Linked DNA regions of Homo sapiens: region 2 is linked to region 1. The links come from fine-mapping of genetic effects on gene expression. A gene starts in region 1. The other region holds a variant in brackets. All regions are shown on one strand. Distances are from middle to middle. Region 1 holds the start of LTA4H (leukotriene A4 hydrolase). Region 2 overlaps LTA4H (leukotriene A4 hydrolase).

Region 1 (2,911 bases):
CGTGGTCATGTCTACCTGGCACTTCCCCAGAGCTGTGGACTTAAATATCCAAGTGACTCATGGACATCTCCACTTCCACTCCCATAGGTTCTCAAATTTCATATGTCCAAAATTGAATTTAGCATCTTCCCCTTAAATCTGTCTGATTTAGTTTGAATATATGTCCCTACCAAATCTCATGTTGAATTATAATCTCCAGTGTTGGAGGTAGGGCCTGGTGGGAGGTGTTTGGGTCACGGGGGCAGAGCCCTCATGGCCTGGTGCTGTCCTCGCCACAGTGTCTTGTGGGATCTGATTGTTTAAGTGTGTGGCACCGGCCCCGCAATCTCTTGCTCTTGCTCGGGCCATGTAGAGGCCTGCCCCTTCTTCACCTTCTGCCATGATTGTAAGCTTCCTGAGGCCTACCTGGAAGCATACTGGAGCTATGCTTCCTGTACAGCCTGCGTAACTGTAAACCAATTAAACCCCTTTTCTTCCCAGTCTCAGGTATTTATAGCAATGCAAGTACAGCCTAACATACTGTCCTCTTCATATAGACTACTACCTCTGGTTAATGACTAGCCAGCCACTGAAGCCGAAAGCCTGGGCCACCTTCGTCTCCTCTCAATCTGTGAATCCACTTATATAAGTATTCCTTCTATTCATTCCTTCCTCTCTATCCTAACTTACTACTTACCTATGTCAGGCCCCCAGCATCTTCTGATTGAGCCATTTTAATAGTTTCCTAAATCTCCTGCTAATGGTTTTGATACCGCATTTTATAACATGAGTCTGACCATGCTTTATCAGTCGCCTGCTGAAAACTCTTCAGTGGGTCCCCCATTAATGCACCCAGGATTAAAAGGCCACCTATTTAAGGTCCTTCGAAACCTAGCCTCTTCCAATTTTTCCAGTTTTAATTTTGAGGCCCCACCCTAAAGGCAAGGCATCCTTCAATCCTCCTTCACCTGCCACAAAGGCCCCAGAGCTGAGCTAGATGTCCCAGCTCTGTACTCCCATTGCGACCAGTGCATAACTTTTATAGAAATTCATTAGTTTCTAAGATGGGAATGTTGGCTTTCTCCGTTTGAGAGATGCAGGTTCTGGGGATATACATAATAAACACTGAAACTGACAAAACAACTGTTTAAACCTTGAATTACTTACAGCTAAAAACAAAAAACAATTACTGTGCCTCCCCGTCGGGGAATCGAACCCCGGTCTCCCGCGTGACAGGCGGGGATACTCACCACTATACTAACGAGGAACCGCACGAAAGAAAGCCTTCTGATAGGCCTTTTCTACGTTTTTGCTCCGCCCCGCCCTCGCTATATGCAAACACCAATGAACCTGATTTTCTTACGTTTGCCACCACAGCTTCCACGAAAGTTGAACAGAGCCAAAATGGTAGTGTTCAGTTTTATCTCCCCCTCCATTCTCATCATTTCCCTTCGGCCACCCTTCTAACTGCCCCTACTCCCCTCCTCTTCTTCAGCTCCAGGAGCACGCTTGGTCCCCCTCAACATCCCTAACACACACGCTCCCAGGTAGCCAAGCGCCCGCTTGCCGCGCGGCACCATGGAACTTGTAGTTCCTTCACCCATCCCCCAACGCTCGTCTGACTTTAAGAAACTTCCTTTCCCGGCGTGCACCGCGAATCCCTCCTCCTCTTCTTTACCTCTCTCCCTCCTCCTCAGGTTCTCTATCGACGAGTCTGGTAGCTGAGCGTTGGGCTGTAGGTCGCTGTGCTGTGTGATCCCCCAGAGCCATGCCCGAGATAGTGGATACCTGTTCGTTGGCCTCTCCGGCTTCCGTCTGCCGGACCAAGCACCTGCACCTGCGCTGCAGCGTCGACTTTACTCGCCGGACGCTGACCGGGACTGCTGCTCTCACGGTCCAGTCTCAGGAGGACAATCTGCGCAGCCTGGTACAGTGGGGCGCCTGCCCAGTGCCCGCCTCTCCCGGGCTCCCTGCCCCTCGACCCTAGTCCTTGCGGGCTCCCGGATCTCCGGCTCACCCCGCCGCGGCCCCTGCCTAGCCCCACGTCCCCGTCTGCTCTTCTGTAGCCTCCATCCAACTCATGTTGTGCACTTCAGCCCCCAGATCTCTCACAGCACCCCTTCTCAACCCCGCTTACGCCTCTGCATCCCTTCCCTCAGCCCCCACTTATACGTATGTCTCCTCCGCCCCTCGCCTGGATCCTCTCTCCGAGGTCCCTGGGCACATCCAGCGCCTCGTCCACTCCTCTCAACTCACCCAGCCCTTAGGTGTCATCTTTGCAGTAGCCCCCATAATTTTAGTTCCTGGCTCTAATTACTCCATGGCCTCCCCATTGCTTCGGCCTGCGGCCCAGAACCCCCTTCTTCAGGCCCCAGACTTTTCCCAGCCCCCTGGGCACCTTCCTCAGTCAACAATCTCACCCAAGTCTCAGATCCCATGTCCTGTCGATCCCTGATCCCACGGTTGCCTCCCGGGAACACTTATTTCAATCCACAGGTCTGCAGGGCACCACCCATCCGTCTCCCTCCTAGTTCCCTGGATCTCCCTGCTAGTCGTTCTCAAGCCTCTTAGGATTTCCAGCCCCGGCCGGGCAGGCCTCTTCTTTCCGCCCTACTTTGAAACTAACAGTCCCTGCTTGCTAACTCTAGGCGCAGCTCTCTCTCTTCAGGGTCCTTTCTACTTTTTAATCTTATCAACTTTCTTCTAATAATTTAAGAACGGATGGGACGTTCAAATTTTCTAAGGATGATTCAATACGCTTTTTTAATAGTTGGTTCCAAGGAGCCAAGTAGTTATTTCACTTAGAAAACACATACTTCTACAAACTCTATAACCATTGGAATGAAGAAAGGTTGTAGATTCATGGAATATTATTCAATGATTTTATCTGTATCATAACCTATATTTAATGTTCTTGCTCAAATTGCCCAAT
Region 2 (2,911 bases), 21 kb after region 1:
GCAATCCACCCACCTTGGCCTCCCAAAGTGCTAGGATTACAGGTGTGAGCCACCATGCCCAGCTATTTTTTTTTTTTAATTGGAGACAAGGTCTCACTCTGTGGCCCAGGCTGTAGTGCAGTGGTGCAATCTCTGCTAACTGCAACTCCAGGGTTGCAATCCTCCCTCCTCAGCCTCCAAAGTGGCTGAGACTAAAGGCGCATGCCACTATGCCTGGCTAATTTTTGTATTTTTTATAGAGATGGGATTTCACCATGTCGCCCAGACTGGTCTCAAACTCCTGAGCTCAAGTGATCCGCCCACCTCGGCCTCCCAAAGTGCTGAGATTATAGGCATAAGCCGCCACGCCCAGCCAACAAGGATTTTTTTTTTTTTTTTTTTTTTGAGATGGAGTCTCACTCTGTCGCCCAGGCTGGTGTGCAGTAGTGTGATCTCTCTGCCTCTCAGTTCAAGCAATTCTTGTGCCTTAGCCTCCCGAGTATCTGGGACTACAGGTGCACGCCACCATGCTCAGCTCATTTTTGTATTTTTAGTAGAGACGGGGTTTCACCATGTTGGCCAGGCTGGTCTTGAACTCCTGACCTCAGATAATTCTCCCGCCTCGGCCTCCCAAAGTGCTAGGATTACAGGCGTGGGCCACCATGCCCGGCCAACAAGGATAGTTCTTAAAAATTCTGTAACACTTATTACAGCGTTAGGAGTGTTAGGTTCAGTCTAGGTGTTAAGTTTAATTCCTGATATACTCCCACTTTTAACATAGGGACATGCAAGAGCAGAAGCAGGGCTTAACTTTCCCTGCTGCCATCTGCTGGGCTGGGCTTCCCATTGCTCTGGATTGACTGCCTGGGAGCCAGAGTCGGCTTAGACTGTAGTGGTCATGCCTTACAACTGCTTTCCTCTGTAGAAAAGCCAAAAAGAAAATATCTTGATTGAAATGTCTTTTCTTCTCAGCTGTGTCCGTGTTTTTATTAAAATATTTTTTTTTCAGGTTAAATGAGGGACATACTGTGTACTTGGAACGCCACATTTGCGGACGATTGTTTGGTGAAAAGTTCAGACATTTTAATGCTCTGGGAGGATGGGGAGAACTACAGAATTCGGTAAAGGAGTCAAAGTTTTAAAAACCTTCATCCAAAGTTGTATAGGTGTTAAAAACTGAGTTTTTATAAAAGCGTCTTTACTGTGTAGCAACCAAAAAGTCATTTTTACAAGTGTGGAAAGTGAAGTCAATGCTGGTATAACACTGTGTTGATCCACAC[T/C]GTTCACTGTTCTATGTAAGGTAGTTTTGATGACCTGGTCTAAATAGGGAGCTGTGGGACCTCACTGGGTCTTTGCTATTAATATAGCTGTTTACTATGTTTGCATCTTATTTGGTATGTCATTTTTAAGTGTTGTCTCCTGAAAGCCAAATTTGCTGACCAGGCATTAAATCATTTTTCTAGTCTTTTTATAAGAATAAAGCCTGTATTATTGAGCAAGAAACAACAGAGAATATTACTTAAGTAAGCATTCTATTAATAGACTTCCAGAAGTTTATGCCAACATATCCTAGTGTTCCAGTCTCCAAGTTTTAGATTCCCCTAAAGTTACACCACTGAGTGAAGTAATACCTCCTTATTAGCTTATTTGCGTGGTGATAGCAGTCTTTCTATATGTTTCTCCATGTTATTTCATGTCTTGCAGGTAAAGACATTTGGGGAGACACATCCTTTCACCAAACTTGTGGTTGATCTGACAGATATAGACCCTGATGTAGCTTATTCTTCAGTTCCCTATGAGAAGGGCTTTGCTTTACTTTTTTACCTTGAACAACTGCTTGGAGGACCAGGTAAGTAGTTGGTATTTTATGATTTTTTTTTTCTTTTTGAGGGTAATGTGAGAATTAGGAAGAATTGTAAACTATTGTTTTGTTCCATTTAATACTTCCAATTCATTCTGGATGTAGCTGCTGAAGAAATCTGTATTGTTTTCTGAGTTACCTCTCAACTTAAAACCATTAATAACCCCTAAGGTTTAAATTATGCTGCTTCATTTTTTAAAAAATCTCATCAGTTTTTGAAATTAGGATAATAGTGTGTATTCCCTGAAAACATTTCTATGGTACAGAAGTTTATAAGAGTAACAAGTGAGAGTCCATCAACCCCTTTCCACTCCCCAGGGGTAACCACTGTTAGCAGTTTGGTGTAAATGGCTCCAGATCATTTTCTAGGTGTAAATTAACAAGCAGACAAATAAATACATGTAATTATTTTAATTACAAAAAATGGGTCATGCTATATATTGGCTCTGCATTTGTGTTTTGTTTTGCTCGATATTTCACATACACCCTTCTGTGTCAGTACATATAAATCTGTTTCATACTTTTTAATGCCATCATACTAGTTCATGATAAAGCTATGCTGAGTTATGTACCCATCCCCCACTGATGGACATTGAGGTGTTCTCCTTGGTTGATTGACTTGGAAGGCTGTCTGTCACCTGGATCCATTCTGCCTGTCCAGTCTTATTTTTCTCCTTTCTAGTCATGTGAAGGTTATTGCTTTTAGAACTTGGGTTATGCATTCCTTTTCTGTGTCTTCATGTGTTATCCCCTTACCTATAATTAGAATTTCTCTTCTCCCTTCCACTGAATTACATATATTCTTCAAGGCCCAACTTAAGTCCCACCTCCTTTTTTGAACATTCTTTCACTCTGAAAGTCCTCGTAGATTTCCCTATTCTCTGAATGTTCTCTGTTCTCTGTGGTTAATAGTACAATGCCAAACACGCACACAAAATGTCAAATAATTACCTTTCTATGAATTGATTTCTTTTCTTTTTTACTCTTAGAGATTTTCCTAGGATTCTTAAAAGCTTATGTTGAGAAGTTTTCCTATAAGAGCATAACTACTGATGACTGGAAGGATTTCCT

What was found. PIP is the estimated chance that this variant, and not a neighbour inherited with it, causes the effect. A credible set is the group of variants that fine-mapping cannot tell apart.
Region 2: its variant is the best candidate, but not a certain one, in a credible set for the expression of LTA4H in subcutaneous fat (GTEx, PIP 0.57).

The regions. Positions count from the first base shown.
Region 1 is chr12:96,034,356-96,037,266 of GRCh38, reverse strand. It overlaps LTA4H (leukotriene A4 hydrolase), which reads left to right and starts at 1,680. Exons shown (of 19, transcript NM_000895.3): 1 at 1,680-1,906. The coding sequence starts at 1,748. TRD-GTC2-8 (tRNA-Asp (anticodon GTC) 2-8) reads right to left here and starts at 1,246; the gene lies at 1,175-1,246. RefSeq lists enhancers at 922-971, 992-1,041, 1,482-1,901, 2,492-2,581 and a silencer at 1,952-2,051.
Region 2 is chr12:96,013,772-96,016,682 of GRCh38, reverse strand. LTA4H (leukotriene A4 hydrolase) reads left to right here. Exons shown (of 19, transcript NM_000895.3): 11 at 989-1,100; 12 at 1,684-1,828; 13 at 2,830-2,911. Among named protein-coding and RNA genes, the nearest start is that of HAL, 19 kb to the right of the region's middle. The variant T/C (reference allele first, on the strand shown) is at 1,260.